Regions from separate parts of the Homo sapiens genome. Here region 2 is linked to region 1. Evidence: fine-mapped expression QTL. A gene starts in region 1. The other region holds a variant in brackets. All regions are shown on one strand. Distances are between the middles of the regions. Region 1 holds the start of ZBTB40 (zinc finger and BTB domain containing 40). Region 2 overlaps ZBTB40 (zinc finger and BTB domain containing 40).

Evidence for each region. PIP is the estimated chance that this variant, and not a neighbour inherited with it, causes the effect.
Region 2: its variant is fine-mapped to the expression of ZBTB40 in whole blood (TOPMed, PIP above 0.99).

Annotation. Positions count from the first base shown.
Region 1 is chr1:22,448,792-22,457,105 of GRCh38, reverse strand. ZBTB40 (zinc finger and BTB domain containing 40) reads right to left here and starts at 5,255. Exons shown (of 18, transcript NM_014870.4): 1 at 5,102-5,255. RefSeq lists silencers at 4,772-4,861, 5,202-5,401, 5,716-6,010 and enhancers at 4,972-5,051, 4,765-5,326.
Region 2 is chr1:22,480,117-22,488,403 of GRCh38, reverse strand. All of the region lies in intron 1 of ZBTB40 (zinc finger and BTB domain containing 40), which reads right to left. Among named protein-coding and RNA genes, the nearest start is that of ZBTB40, 32 kb to the right of the region's middle. The variant A/T (reference allele first, on the strand shown) is at 3,374.

The DNA of each region.
Region 1 (8,314 bases):
GGAATGCAGTGGTCTGATCACAGCTCACTGCAGCCTCAACTCCTGGGCTTGCATAAGTGATCCTCCTGCCTCAGCCTCCCAGAGTGCTGGGATCACAGGCATGAGCCACTGTGCCCAGCCTTCTTTCCCTTTTAACCCAGCCTTCGTTAAGTCTGAGGAACTGACTCCATCTGCAAGAAGCTGATGCCTAGAAACAAAGCAGTGAGCTTCCACTACCTCCTCCTTTCCTCTATCAGTAGAAACAGTTATGATATCTGCTAACGAGGTTGCCTAGACAATAGGTCCACATCTCACCAGTCTCATGTAAATTAACAACAACCATCTGTAAGGCATTTATGAAGCAGTTCAATGGGCAGATATCTATGTTACACAAACATTCAACTATGCTTGACCACTTTAGACAGAAAACAAAGCCTGAAAAGACTTAAAATCTGAGATTAAGGTTACAGAGCAGTGAAACAGTACCTGGTTTCAGGGGAGATTCTCATCGCGCCTTCAGTTAGGTGATGTTACATGTGATGTTTCATTGTTGGTTCTGCACCTTTTAAAGGGTCAAGGGCCTTTCTGAGATCAGATTAAAGTAACTGGCTCTCTCCCCAGAAAAAATGACATTCACACAAATTTGCAGGCAACTTCAAAGGATTCATGGGTCTCTTGAAATTCAACCATTTACCCTGAGATTAACAATCTCTGACTTACATGGATCAGCATAATACATTTATGTAAGGAAATGAAATACGTGGCATCATAATTTTGAGGATTTGGAGTTAAATAACAACATTAGGGAAATGTAAGGAAAGCTGGCTTTCTTTCCTTATCCTTCTCTCTCGAGGGCTGCCAGAGTCTCAAAACTGCATGCTCCCTGCAAATGAAATACTGCACTCTCTGCTAGACTTACAGAAAGTGACAATCTCATCTCTCAATTTAAATGCCCTTAATATTTAATTCTTTCCTCTATGTGGTTAGTAGCTTGCTTTCTCCACATTATCCAGATGATGGCTTTGGAAGGCAGACTATTGGAGATCCAGAAAACCATATATCCCAATTCAATTTCCTTGTGAAAATCAAAGAGCTCACTCTGCTGAAGAGTTGAAAGAGGCTGAGGGGTCACTGCCTTCCCTCAGGGTGCTGGTTCAGGCAGTACTCGAGAAGGGTAATGTAAATACTCAGTACGAGGCAACAGGGCATACTAATTTGTTTTTCAATCTATTTTATTTCAGTTCAAAGCATCATTGCAGACAGATAGTCCAAGAAAACAAGCCACACTTGGGTTATACTCAGTCTTCCTCAATCTCCAAAAGCAGGTGAGTGTTGCCAAAGTGTGGCTCGTTTTCCGGGGCTGCCTGTCTGCAATGATGCTTTGAACTGAAATAAAATAGACTGAAAAACAAACTGGTATGCCCTGGCTCTTCTTGCAGTTTCATACTATCCTTCAAAGCTAGTGTTAGCACCTGCTCTTTACTGGAACCCAACAGACCCAAATCACAGAGTAAAACTGCAATACTTTAGATGCAAAGGTCCCACCCAAACCTAAAATAGCAATTTAATTCAGGGCTTGTTGTTTAACATTGCATTAAATGACACTCTCTGTCCAGTTCTTTGCTCCGTTTGCAGGGTTAGAATGTGTCTTCTGATGACATGTGCAATATGGTTACTAGGGAGAGTTTAAAGCGAAACCTGCCATGCTGTTCTTCTTACATAGTTCCCTTGATTTATTATTGCTTCTAATTTCTTACATTTATGAACCCGAACATTATCCTATTTTTACTTAGTCAAAAAGCCTGCCATTTGCCTCAAAGCATTCAATACTGTTTTAGAGTATGTGACATTATTTTGAAAACTTTTGGAGGAAACTTGAAATCATGCACAAACAAATTTTTAAATCGCCACCAACTAAAAGTCTAACATTTGTTTAGAATGCCTTAAGAGAATACATACACCTTTGATGGAGGAACATAAGTAGTTTCCAACTTAAAACACTAAAATGCTGAAAAGTGTTCTGCATAGACAGCTGTACAATTTGGCTTTAAAAAAATTAGATGCCATTTGGAAAAGTTCCTCTCCAAGCAGAAACACTAAGAAAAAACAAGATCTGCTCCCCTCTTTCTGGAGATAGAAAGTAGAGGGCTTCTATTTTTAATTGGATTCCCCCATTCTTAATTTTGTCTGTAATGTATTTCTGGATTTTTGTTATTAGTTAGCACTTTATAAAGTTTCCATTTGGAGCTAAATTTGGTTATTCAGCAATATGTGTAACAACAACAAAAAGAAAATACCATAGCTATGAATACAGTTTCTCTTATTTAATCTGCACAACCCTTTGAGGAGGCACCATTATCCACATTTTCCAGGTCAGATAACTAATCTGTAACTTGCCCTTGGGCGTGCAGTTCTCTCAGTAGTAGCTGGGTTCACGGCCAGGGACTGAGCACAGGAGTGAACCACAGCACAGTGACTCCCTTTGAGTTCTCCAACATCTCACGTTGTTACCCACCTTAGTCTCTGAACCTGCTGAAAAGTTCTTCCTCCCAGCTTCGTCTCTCCCTTTCCCCTTCTTGCTAGACTGGTTCCTTGTCACTCAACAAGTTTCAGCTTAAACTGCCTTTCTTAAGAGAGGTTTTCCCTGACCACCCAGATAAAAAGTGAGTCTCCCAGGTTAGTGTCTCTCTCCGTGCTGTTTTATTTCCTTTAGAGCAGTTGCCACAATTTGGAATAACTTTGTTATTTCTTTACTGTCTTGACACTAGGCTTTAGCTTCCAGAACAGAGCCCCAGGTCCATCTTGCTCACCCTGGTAATCACAGGACCTAGACAGTGGTGCTTGGTACATGGAGACACTAAAATATTTGTTCGAGGCCGGGCGCGATGGCTCACGCCTATAATCCCAGCACTTTGGGAGGCTGAGGCGGGCAGATCACTTGAGGTCAAGACTTCAAGACCAGCCTGAACAACATGGTGAAACTCTGTCTCTACTAAAAACACACAAAAAATTAGCCGGGTGTCGTGGCACATGCCTGTAGTCCCAGCCATTCAGGAGGTTGAGGCAGAAGAATCACTTGAACCCGGGAGGCGGAGGTTGCAGTGAGCCGAGATTGTGCCACTGCACTCCAGCCTGGGCAACACAGCGAGACTCTGTCTCAAAAAAATAAATAAAATAAAATAAAATAAAAATTTGTTCAATGAATGACCTAGATTTGTTTACTTGGTATTTACCTGCAAACACCAGGTTGTGGGTACTGGCTAGCAGCTGAGGATAACAACAGTAAGGTGTGGTCCCTGCCCTTAAGGACCTCCTAAGCTAGTAGGAAAGACAATAAACAGATGGAACAATACAGGGTGTTCAGTGTGATCAGATTAGCTTCAGCTCTCAGCTGAATGCCTTAGCTATGTAACCTCGAACATCTCTCCGACGTGAGTTTGTTTCCTCTATGCGTAAAATGGTAATATTAATACTACTTATGTCATAGTATTGGTGTGAGGATTAAGTGATAGTCCATATAAATAAAGCACTTAGCACAGTACCTGGCACAAAATAATCACTCAGTAAATAGCAACTAATAATTTTATTATGATGATGCTATTACAGCTGTATTTGAAATTATCTTTGTCTACCTGTATACCACTTGTCCAAGCCCCACATAGAATTTAAATTCCATGGAAGGGCAGAAATCATATTTGTCTTGTTCACCACTGTATTTCCAGGAATTTGAAACGTCTCTGGTACACAGTAAGTGCTCAACAAACACTAAATGATTAATGAATGCATGCGTACATGCATGGGGTGTTCTGAAACCATTTGTTAAACCACTAATGAATAGCTAAGTTTGGGGACTACTGACATAGAAGAAAAGTGTTTATATTAGAAAGGAGGGGCAGAAGTTTGATGATTTAGCTAAGTAGAAAAAAATTTCACTGAGATTGTAATTAAATCTCCATTAACCATACAAAGATCTGGGTACAATTCCAGGGAAGAACAAACAATTCCAGGTAGAAAAGACTTGAAAGAATAAAATCCAAAGCAGTTTGACCGGTGCCATCAGGCAGGGGGCTCCCAGGGACAGGCTCAATTTGGCAGCCCTATAACCTAGTACACCTATACATATATTAACCACTCAGAACAAATTTCTTCCTCGTTTGTAAAATGGAAATACCATACTTACTTATAAAGCGTCGTCATAAAGTAGAACAACACTTGTATGAATATAAATAAAGCACCTGGTTCATTGCAGCACTGGCTGCATGGTACCAACGCTATTCAAAGCAGGAGAAACTCTGAATAGTCAGTAAGACCAGAAGGGAAGCCAGAGTGTTCTGTCAACTAAAGTGCTCTCGGTGCATCGCGCAGTTTTAACTCTTTTCCCACTCCAGAAGAACCGACGAGAGGAATAGCTGAATGACAACACTGATCCAATCTCCTTGTGTTTAGGGCAGGGGTCAGTAAACTTTTGCTGTAAGGGACCAGACAGAAATATTTCTGGCTTTGTGAGCCAGCCGATCAAAGCCAAGCAACGGCTGCGCAACTACTCAGCTCTGCCCTCTTGGCAGGAAAGCAGCCATAGACAATACATCAACAATGAACAGGGCCGTGTTCCAATAAAACTTCATTTATGGACTTGATTTCATAGAACTTTCGCAAATTACATGAAATATTCTTCCCCCTAACCATTTGCAACTGTAAACAAAGACCGAGAGGGGAAGAGAGAAGGGGGGCATGGATTAGGCCCAAGGCCATAGTCCGCTGACGCCCGGCGAAGGGACCTGAAGGGAGGGGGAGTGAGACAGCGACAAGAGGCCTCCGGACGGGCCGAGAGGGAGGTGCGGGGCGACAGCGAGCCCCAGGCGGTGTCAGGTCGGGCCTGGCGCCCTGAGTGGGTCCCCGCGGTCTCTCCCCTCCGCAGTCTACAGCAGAGCCGGCGCCAGGGGTGCGGACCGCCCCTGGAGGGGGCACGTCCGGGGTGTAGGTGAGGCGGCCGTGATTCGGCCGAGTCCCGCGGAGTTCGCCACGCGGAAGGGTCTGTATACACCCCTCATTTAGGGCGCACCCGGGCCCCCGCTGCAGGAAGGGTCTCCACGCGGAGTCCCAGCCCCGTTTCTATGGTTACCTGTTCAGCACCGATTCAAACTGCCGTTCTTTATTGACAGCGCCATAGAGGACACGAACACTCCTGCCCGAAGGGAACAATAAAGCTTTCGCCATTCAACAGCGCCGGAGACGCCAGAAGGCGGCCATCTTGAGGCCGGCGCGCAATGGGTATCAGAGGGGAGGGGGCGGCCCGACCTGCCCCACGCGCCGCGGTCACGTGCTGGGGGCGGGGCCTGCGTCACGCGCTCGCTCTCCACCTATGCTAGGACGGCGGGGGCCGGCTGGTTGCTAGGCTCTTCTCTGACCTCTGACCTTGGCCACTCCCTCCTTCCCTCCCCACACTTCCTAAGTAAAGTTTTTTTCTTTTTTTTTTTTTTGAGATGGGAGATTCGCTCTTGTTTCCCAGGCTGGAGTGTAGCGGCGCGATCTCGCCCCACTGCAGCCTCCGCCTTCCAGGTTCAAGCGATTCTCCTGCCTCAGCCTCCCGAGTAGCTGGGATTACAGGCGCGCGCCACCACGCCCTGCTAATTTTTTTTTTCTCTTCTATTTTTAGTAGAGACAGGATGTCACCATGTTGGCCAGGCTGGTCCCGAACTCCTGAGCCCAGATGATCCACCTGCCTCGGCCTCCCACCATGCCCGGCCCTAAGGAAAGTTCTAATGGAGCTCCGCAGTCTCGCTCCGGCAGCTCTAGGATTAGGATTTTGTTTCAAAGGAGGGCAAGGAAGTGAACACAAAAGGCTTCGTTTTTCCAAAACAACACATTCACGTGCGAGGCGGAGAGGCGACCTGAGCCGCGTCCCCAGCCCGCACTCTTTGTGGGACAGGCTTGGCGCTGGTGGGGCGCAGTGGGCTGAAGGCATCCTGGAGGCATCCTGATCCTGCCTCTCGCACCTCCCAATTTTGGGATTTAGGGGCTTTGGGATTTAGTCCTAGCTTTTCTTTTGCTCATTTTCCTTCTCACACACTATGCGTTCCCTGTTGAAGCGTCCCCTTGCCACCCTTCCTTACACAAACATTTAAATCAGATCCAGCAGTAACAAACTGAGTCACCTCCGCGCTGGCCCACTGAACACAGTCACCCTGTCACTGACATGCAGCCACTTTTTCTGTCCCTGACAGTTACGTGCCCAAATCCAGCCATCTTAGTGCAATGTCCAGCTTCCTCTGTGGTTATACCTTTTCCATCTGCAATGTCAATATTCAGTCGTTCTGAGAGCTGTCTCTGGCTGACTGACTCACCCCATCACCGTTTTACATCACAAATTCAATCTACTGGGCAGAACTGTCACTTGCATTGTTGCTGTCTCCCGGTCGATCATATTTACTGTCACTGTCTGACATGCAGCTACCGTCATTGACCATAAACTTCAAACGGTTCTGTTCAAAATAGCACTTTGTTTGCCCAGCTGTTGCCCTTTCTGTTGTTTTCACTGTCATTGTCATGCAGCCACTTTTGCTGCCACACAGTCAAGCCAGTATTTAACAGGCCCCTTCAGGGTACACTGTTGTCCTCATACCCTTGTGCCCAGTTAGTCACTTTCACTATTATACTCATGTCACCGTTACATTCAGGGTCGGATTTACTGTAGCTGTTATTTAGTCACTTTTGTAGTAACTGGAACCACGCCTACAGCTGTTGTGTCTCCTAAGCCCTCATTTCCACCAGCCTCACATTCTCTTTTAGTGGGAACATAGGGTTGCTAGATTTAGCAAACAAACACCTAGAAGGGTGCTTGGCACATAGTAGGTGCTCTAGAAATATTTATCGAGTTAATGGGATTACAGGTGTGAGCCACTGGGCATTTTGGGAGCATTTTGGGAGGCCGAGGCAGGCGGATCACCTGAGGTCAGGAGTTCGAGACCAGCCTGGCCAACATGGTGAAACCCCCGTCTCTACTAAAAATAGAAAAATTACCTGGGCATGGTGGCAGGTGCCTGTAATCCCAGTTACTCAGGATGCTGAGGCAGGAGAATCGCTTGAACCTGGGAGGCGGAGGTTGGAGTGAGCTGAGATCACGCCACTGCACTCCAGCCTGGGCAACGAGAGCGAGACTCCGTCTCAAAAAAAAAAAAAAGAGAAATATTTATCGAATTAATGGATTTTAAAAAACAGTATCATTGCCAATGTGCTGTATGTGAATGCAGATGGCTTGAAGCTCAGGAGTCTCAATAGGAATAAGTTTTCAGGCACCATCTGTCCCTCCTGTTCCACTTAACAAGACTTCAAATCCTATAGGGACTAAACGAAGAGAGCAAAAGAAAAGTGGCCACCAAGTGTACTCAGTTATTGGGACAGCAGTGACAAAGAAGAGGCTTTCTATAACTTTTTTTAAATGAATACATGCTTATTATAAAATATTTAGGAAATATGGAAAGGAATCTTTCCCTGGGGGGATTGTTTTAGACATCTCCCAACACACCCCACACATGTATCCACAGTCAGTGGATCAGTGGCTGCAGTTTCCCCATCACCATTTACTTAAGGTTTTGCATTAACAGAAGTTCTCATGGGGCTGACTTGCCTACAGTTCATGAACAACGACATACTGTCATGGAGAGCAATGGCTCTGGCTTCTGGCTGGTCATGATATGGAAGAATAAGAAGACAATGGCTAGACCTTCTAGACCTTGTAAGGGCCTCATCTCCCCACAGAGCTTCGACAGCTGCGGAGAAATAACCTGTGCTTCCCGATCACCAGAAGGACCCAAACCTTGACTTTGAGGGGGAGGGTTGAGAACTTTTCAACTTTTTTTCTACTTTAGAAAAGAGTGTTCCCATGCCACCACCCAGTGTAAGATGCCCGAGGTGCCTCTGCTAAACTGCCAGCTGTTTCCAGAGTGACTACTATATGCCAAGAACACTGAGGTCAACAAAACATGTTCCTGGCCGTAGTAAGAAATAACAACCGGCCGGCTGCGGTGGCTCACACCTGTAATCCCAGCACTTTGGGAGGCCGAGGCAGGCGGATCATGAGGTCAGGAGTTCAAGACCAGCCTGGCCAACATGGTGAAACCCCATCTCTACTAAAAATACAAAAAAAATTAGTTGGGCATGGTGGTGCTGGCTTGTAATCCCAGCTACTCAGGAGGCTGAGGCAAGAGAATTGCTTGAACCTGGGAGGCAGAGGTTGCAGTGAGCCGAAATCACGCCACTGCACTGCAGTCTGGATGACGGGGCAAGACTGTCTCAAAAAAAAAAAATTTAAAAAGAAAAAAAGAAATAACACAAC
Region 2 (8,287 bases), 31 kb before region 1:
CCCCTCCAACCTCAGAACATCCCGCTCCTTCGTCTGCTTTGTTTTTCAGCATAGCACTTATCGCCTACTGACATACTATATTTTTATTTGTTATTATCTATCTTCCTTCACTAGAATGTAAGCTCCATTAGGGTAAGAACTTAATTTTATCACCTGCTGTATCCCAGTGCTTAAAATTCTGCTTAACACAAATACTGTTGATTACTTGGTAGAATGAATAAATAACTAAAAGGCAACATAATGATGGATTTGTACACACAAACACAGTTTGGGGGATAGGAGAGTCCAGGAGTTAGAGTAAAGCTTTGAGGGAAAAACAGCTGACCTGTGTCTTAAAAGATACGGACGCACAGATGAGGTAAAAAGAATGGGAGGAAAAGGCAATCCTGGCAGGGACGCCTGCATGAGGCATGCAGATAAGAAAACATCCCGTGGTAGCAGGCAGGAGGATTAGGAACTGAGATTATTACTGGAACATAAAGCAGGGAATAGGAGTGTTAAGAGATGAATCTGGAGAGGCAGGCAGGGGTGTTGGCCACAGAGGGATATATAGGCCATGCTTACGAGCTTGGAGGTTATCCTAAAAGCAATGAGCAGCCATTGAGGCATTTGAAAGGCTTTAAGCAGCAAAGTCATGTGGTCAGATATGCATTTTAAATATACCACCTAAGTAACATGTGTACAGAATTTGAGGGGGATAATGCTGGAGACGGGCTCTATTATTGCAGGAGATCAGGAGAAAATCAATGAGGGCTTCAAGCAGGAGAACTGGTAATAGGAGAGAGCCAAAAAAACATTGCAAAGTATAGCTGTCATGACTTAGGGACTGAATGGATGTGAAGGACAGAGAGAAACAATTCCCAGGTTCCTGGCTTGGTGAATGGGTGGATGATAAGATGATCCAGATAATACAAGAACAGACAGTTTAGGGGAAGAGACATCTAGTTCAGTTTTGGGTTTGAGGATCTTATCTTTGAGGATGTTTGAGGAAATTATGTAATCTCACTTGTAAAAGAAAAAAGTACGCTAAGAAAAGGGCGGAAAGACATATGTCAAAAAACCAGTAATTGCTTTTGTTAGAGGATTATGGATGATTCTCTTTCCACTCCACCATTTCTACATTTACTGACACTGAAATTGACAGATAAAAATATAAATAAAAATATTTCAGAGTTCCAGTTTCCATTCTGGTATGTCAGGAGCTTAGAAGTCACCACGTCCTAAAAGCAAACAGACTGAACAAACTGAAAAATCAACAACTCTTCTTTAATTCGTCAGAAAAGAAAGGTCACAGGGCAAATCACTGTTCCTAAAATTAGAGACAGACAGGCAGACACAGAGAATCACAACTTATTGAACAAAAAACACAAGCCAGGCGCAGCAGCTCACGCTTGTAATCCCAGCACTTTGGGAGGCTGAGGCGGGCGGATCACTTGAGGTCAGGAGTTCGAGACCAGCCTGGTCAACATGGCAAAACCTCGTCTCTACTAAAATTACACAAATTAGTCAGGCATGGTGGCGGGCACCTGGAACCCCAGCTATTCAGAGGCTGAGGCAGGAGAATAACTTGAACCTAGGAGGCAGAGGCTGCAGTGAGCCCAGATCATGCCACTGTACTCCAGCCTGGGCAACAGAGGGAGACTCCGTCTCAAAAAACAAAACAAAACAAAACAAAACAAAACAAAAAAAATGTATGAACAAACGCCTCTGTAGGAACAAGTGCCAGGTTAAGAAAACCTGAACTGCAATCGAATCACTGGAGGCTCAGTGTGCACAACTCTGAGAGTTAAAAACTCTGGGGGGGACTCAGTCATAGGGGTCCCCCAACACTTCTGTGAGCTTTACCTCCTAGAGCTCTAACAAGTCCTCACAACGAATAGTGAAGAAAAATCCCCTCTTGCTTCCAGCAGCGGGAGAGGGAAAAGGAACCATTTTGAAATCTGCCAGAGCACTCTGTTTTTAACAAGGCCTGCCTTCAAGAAAACTATTTTACAAGAGCCTAACTGGCTACAGTTTTCTCAGAGCCTAACCTACCTGGAAAAAAACAAATACCCAACTCCAGCTCCCTCTAGCCATCCTGTACCATCTAAGGAGCAAAAAAGCCTGAGAGCACTTGGGAAGTTCACAGCCCAGGGGCACAAGCTCACCAAAAGATTGAGACTGAATCCCAGGACTACAGAAAGCTTCTCCTCCCCTGCACCCTACTACCACATCACTAAAGGCCTAGCTATAGCAGTTCCTTTTATGCAGTACATCATGTCCACCTTTCAACAAAAAATTACAAGGCATACTAAAAGACAAACAAACAGACAAAACCCAAAAACAGTTTGGAGAGACAGAGCAAACTTCAAAACCAGACTCAGATATAGCAAGAATGTCCGAATTAGCACACCAGGATTTTTTTTTTTTAAGACTATGATTAAATAGCCAGGGGCTTTAATGGAAAAAGTACAAAACATGTAAGAATAGATGGATAATGTAAGCAGAGAAATGGAAATTCTAAGAAAGAATCAAAAAGAAATGCTAGAGATAAAAAACACCATAACAGAAATGAAGACTGCCTTTGATGAGCTCATTAGTAGACTGGACACGACTGAGGAAAGAATCTCCTAGCTTGAAGACGTAACAATCCAAAACGAAAAAGCAAAGTAAAAAAAGAAGAAGAAAACAGAACAGAATATCTAACAGTGGGAAGACTAGAAAAGAAATAACTAATGCAAAATGGGGACACCAGAAGGGGAAGAGAGAAAAGCAGCAATATTTGATGCAATAATGACTGAGAATTTCCCCAAATTAATGACAGACACCACATCACAGATCCAGGAAACTCAAGACATTGAGCCTAGGCATATAGTTTTCAAATGTCAGAAAATCAAAGATGGCCATGGTAACAAAGAAAAAAAAATAGACAATACAATTTATTAATATCAGTATCACTGTATACCCCATATACATTAAAAATATAAGGTAATTTATGAATGTCCACAAATATAACCTAAATAAAATGATCCAATTCCTTGAACGATGCAATCTGTCAAAACTCACACACGCAGCAATAGACTATCTGAATAGGCCTATATCTATTAAAGTAGGTGAATCAACAATAACCTCCCCAAAGTGGAAGCAACAGCCCCAGATGTGTTCACTAATGAGTTCCACCCAATATTTAAGAAAGAAATTATACCAATTCTCTACAAACTCTTCCAGAAGATAGAAGCAGAGGGAATATTTCCCAACTCATTCTTTGAGGCCAACATTAACCCTCTACCAAAACCACACAGAGACATTACAAGAAAAGAAAACCACAGACCAGTATCTCTCGTTAAGATAGATGCAAAAATCCTCAACAAAATATTAGCAACTTGACTCTAAC[A/T]ATGCCTAAAGAGAATTATACATCATAGCCAAATGGGACTTCTCACAGGTATGCAAGGCTGGTTCAACATTCAAAATCAATTAATGTGATCCATCGCATCAACAGGCTAAAGAAGAAAAATCATGTGAACATGTCAACAGAAAGCTGCAGAAAAAGCATCTGGCAGAAATCCAATGCCCATTCATGATAAAAACTCCAACAAACTAGAAATAGAGGGGAACTGCCTCAACTTCATAAAGAACATCTACAAAAAACCTACAGCTGGCATCACTCATAATGGTGAGAAACTCAAAGTCTTCCTGCTGGGATTATAAACAAGGCTGGGATATCCCAGTTCACCACTGATCTTAAACACTGTACTGGAAGTCCTAGCTAATGCAACAAGACAAGAAAAGGAAATAGAAGGTATACTGATTGGGAAGGAAGTTAAAACTGTCTTTGTTTGCAGACTACATGATTGTCTTTACAGAAAATTAAAGAGAAATGACAAAAAACCTCCTGGAACTAATAAGAGATTATAACAAAGTTGTAAGACATAAGGTTAATATACAAAAGCCAATTGTTTTCCTATATACCAGCAATAAGGTAGAATTTGAAATTAAAAACTTTACCATTTACACTAGCACCCCAAAAAGAGAAATACTTAGGTATAAATCTAACAAAATATGTACAAGATCTATATGAAGAAAACAACAAAACTCTGATGAAAGATATCAAAGAACTTTAAAAATGGAGAGATATCCCATGTTGTTAGATAGAAATATTCAATATTTTCAGAGACTCAGATCTTCCCCATGACCAAAATAGCTAACTCAATATTGAAGGAGAAGACTGAAGTTGGAGGACTGATAATGACTTCAACATTTACTATTTTAAAGCTACAATAATGAAGACAATGTGGTATTGGTGAAAGAATAGACAAGTAGACCAGTGGAACAGAACAGAAAGCCCAGAAACAGACCCACACAAATATAGTCAATTCATCTTTGACAAAGGAGCAAAGGCACTAAAATGAAGCAAAGAGTATCTTTTCAACAAGTGATGCTGGAACCAACTGGACATTCACATACGAAAAAATGAATCTAGACATAGACCTTACACCCTTCACAAAAATTAACTTAAAATACATCAGAGACCTATATGTAAAATACAAAATTATAATTCCTAGAAGTTAACATAGGAGAAAACTTAGTTGACTTTGGCTATGGCAGTCTTTTTAGGTACAACACCAAAGGCACAATCCATGACAGAAATAAATTTTGCTCCATGAAAGACAATGTCAAAAGAATGAAAAGACAAGCCACAGACTGGGAGAAAATATTTGCAAAAAACACACCTGATAAAAGACTATTATCCAAAATACACAAAGAACTCTCAAAACTCAACAATAAGAAAACAACCCAATTAAAAAATAGCAGAAGACCTGAACAGACACCTCATCAAAGAAGATATGCAGATGACAAATAAGCAAATGAAAAGATGTTGTACATGGTATGTCTTTAGAGAATTGCAAATTAAAACAAGATACCATCACACACCTATCAGAATGACCAAAATCCAAAACACAGGGAATACTAAATGCTGACGAGGATGTAGAGAAACAGGAACTTTCATTCAATGCCGGTGGGAATGCAAAATAGTACAGACATTCTACAGATTAACAGTTTCTTACAAAACCAAACATACTCTTGCCACATGATCTAGTAATCACATTCCTTGGTAATTAACCAAAGGGGTTGAAGACTTATGGCCACACAAAAGCCTACACATGATACTTATAAAGCAGCTTTATTCATAATTGCCAAAATTTGGAAGCAACCAAGAAGTAGATATAATGAATAAACTGTGGTACATCCAGACAATGGACTAAAAAGTGCTAAAAAGATATGAGACATAAAGCCATGAAAAGACAGGGAGGAAACTTAAATGCATATTTCTTTTTTTTTTTTTTTGAGACGGAGTCCTGCTCTGTCGCCCGGGCTGGAGTGCAGTGGCGTGATCTCGGCTCACTGCAAGCTCTGCCTCCCGGGTTCACACCATTCTCCTGCCTCAGCCTCCCGAGTAGCTAGGACTACAGGCGCCCGCCACCACGCCTGGCTAATTTTTTTGTATTTTTAGTAGAGACCGGGTTTCACTGTGTTAGCCAGGATGGTCTCGATCTCCTGACCTCGTGATCCACCTGCCTCGGCCTCCCAAAGTGCTGGGATTACAGATTACAGGCGTGAGCCACCGCACCCGGCCTTAAATGCATATTTCTAAGTGAAAGAAGTCAATCTGAAAATGCTACATACTTTATAATTCCAAATATATGACGTTCTGGAAAAGGTAAATATATAGATAGTAAAAAAGACCAGTGATCGCCAGGGGTTAGAGGAGAGGGAGGGATGAATAAGCAAAGCACAGAGGATTTTTAGGGCAGTGAAATTATTCTTCATGAATCTACAATGGCAAATATAAGTCATTATACATTTGTCAAAACCCACAGAATGCACAACACCAACAGTGAACCCTGATGTAAACTATGGACTCCGGGTAAGAATTATGTGTCAATGTAGGTTCATCAATTATAAGAAATGTACCAATATGGTGTGAGACATGGATGGTGGGACAGGTTGTGCATGTGTGGAGAATGGGAGTGGGGAGGGATCTGCAAACCCTCTGTAATTTCCGCTTAATTTTGCATGTACCTCAAACTGCTCTAAAAAAATAGTTTATTAATTAAAATAAAGATTTGCTGAAATAAATATAAATGTTTCAGTTCTAACTACCCCAAGCCCCTTCTATACCATGTACCTAATATTGTTGGGCATTCATGAATTCATATGATTGTTTTCAGCTTGCTCAAAGAAAATCTTTAAGAATGTCTACCCCTACTTTTTGAATACAGTCTGTTTTAATCTATATTATAAAAATGCACATATATTTTTAAACAAATGAAGAACAGTCCTAGGAGGTAAGTGGCTTTTATCTAATAGAAGTAGCTCTAGTAGGCGACTGGAATTTTTATCTCTTGGTGTTTTATGGAAAGAGGAGGGGAAAATTCCATAAGATTTAAAACTAGAAAAACATTTTTTTCTAGTTTTAATATTTAAATAAATATTTAAATTAATATTTGAGAAAAATCTGAACAAGAATTCAATTTGCAAATAACAAAAGACCATAAACAGGCACTGATGAGGTTTTTCTAAGAAACAAATTACACCAATGTAATGTGATTTTTTTTTTTTTTTTTTTTTTTTTTTTGGTAAAACAAGACATAAGTCTTACGGATTACAGTAAACCAAAAGACTTACCTGGACATACATTAGATCTTTTTAAACATTCTTATTAGTAAGAAACAAGTGACTGGAATTATATTTTCGGGATAGACTCAAACTTAAAAGGTTGCTTTTAAGTTTCTGGGGAGGGTACCCACATCAGATTAAACAAGAGAAGATTCACCCAAGATGCAGAGGGAGATATTTCAAGCATTATGTGGTCAGAGCTATTTAATGTTTTTGTGAACAACTAAATAAGAAGAGAAAAAGAAAAACTTCAGCAGAATGAGCAACTGGGCAAGGTTAAAAAGAAAACTGAACCTAATTATCTGGCTTACCAATATATAGATACTAAAAAGGTGATTATAAGCTTGAGCAATGAAAGGAAAATGGGAACCGTTAAGGCCTAAAACATTCAAGGGTGGTCAATGGCTACATAATGAATCTAAGTTGGCAATGTCTAAAATTGAAAATTTACTGAGATTAATGCAATAATAATTAAAAAACAGACTTTTGGCAAAATGGCACACTGAGCTGAAGTAAATGGCTCTTTTTCTCCCACTACAAATACACAGAAATGCTGGATAAAACATAAAAATGCTTTTAAAATACATAGGCTTGAAAAAAAATTAAAGAAAAGAAATCCCTAGGTACCTGAAATGAAAGAAACATCAAAATCAAAGCTAGAACAGTAAGTGGGAATTGAGACCATGGTGGCCTACAGGGGTTTCAAACTCCTGTACAGGCCCTAAGCTGGGAGGAGGAAGCATTAATACTCACATGGAGACTGCAAATGTAGCTTCAGGCAGGTAGAAGGTGGGGAGTTAGCACTGAGACCCTTGCATAAAGCCCAGAGCCTCAAATGCTGATCCTTCCTTGATATGCAGTCTCAAAAATCTGCTCACTGGCTCAGGGAAACAGCAATAAAAGTTGCTTATTATCTAGGCCATCAGCAGGAAAAAAGGTAAAATGCATGTCTATGCCATACAGAGGTATAGCATCCAAATTTATACTCTGTATCATACAGGAATCTCAAGTCAAGAAATTAACATAAAAACTGGTCTCTAGCATGCAGCAGAAAAAACACAGGGACTCACATAGAGAAAAAGAAAAACACAGAAAAGGGCAGGGCGCGGTGGCTCACGCCTGTAATCCCAGCACTTTGGGAGGCCGAGGCGGGCAGATCACGAGGTCAGGAGATCGAGACCATCCTGGCTAACACGATGAAACCCCGTCTCTACTAAAAATACAAAAAACGACAACAACAACAACAACGACACAGAAAAGAAGCTCATAATTACAAACCACATGAGGAAGACCTGGATGTGAAAAGTAAATCTATAAAAGCTAATAGCAGAAAATGTCAGAGGGGACCTTTGAAACAGAAGGCAAAGACTTCTGAAACAATGCCCCGAAAGCTGAAAAAAGAAAATAAATTTGACTGTATAGGTATTAAAGGTTTCTGTCAAAGGATAATAGAGACAGATGGACAAATGACAGAAATGGCAGATATTTGCAAAGTTTAAAGGCAATAAGGAATTGATATCTAGAATATATAAGAAATTCCTGGCTGGGCGCAGTGGCTCACGCCTGTAATCCCAGCACTTTGGGAGGCCGAGGCAGGTGGATCACTCGAGGTCAGGAGTTCGAGACCAGC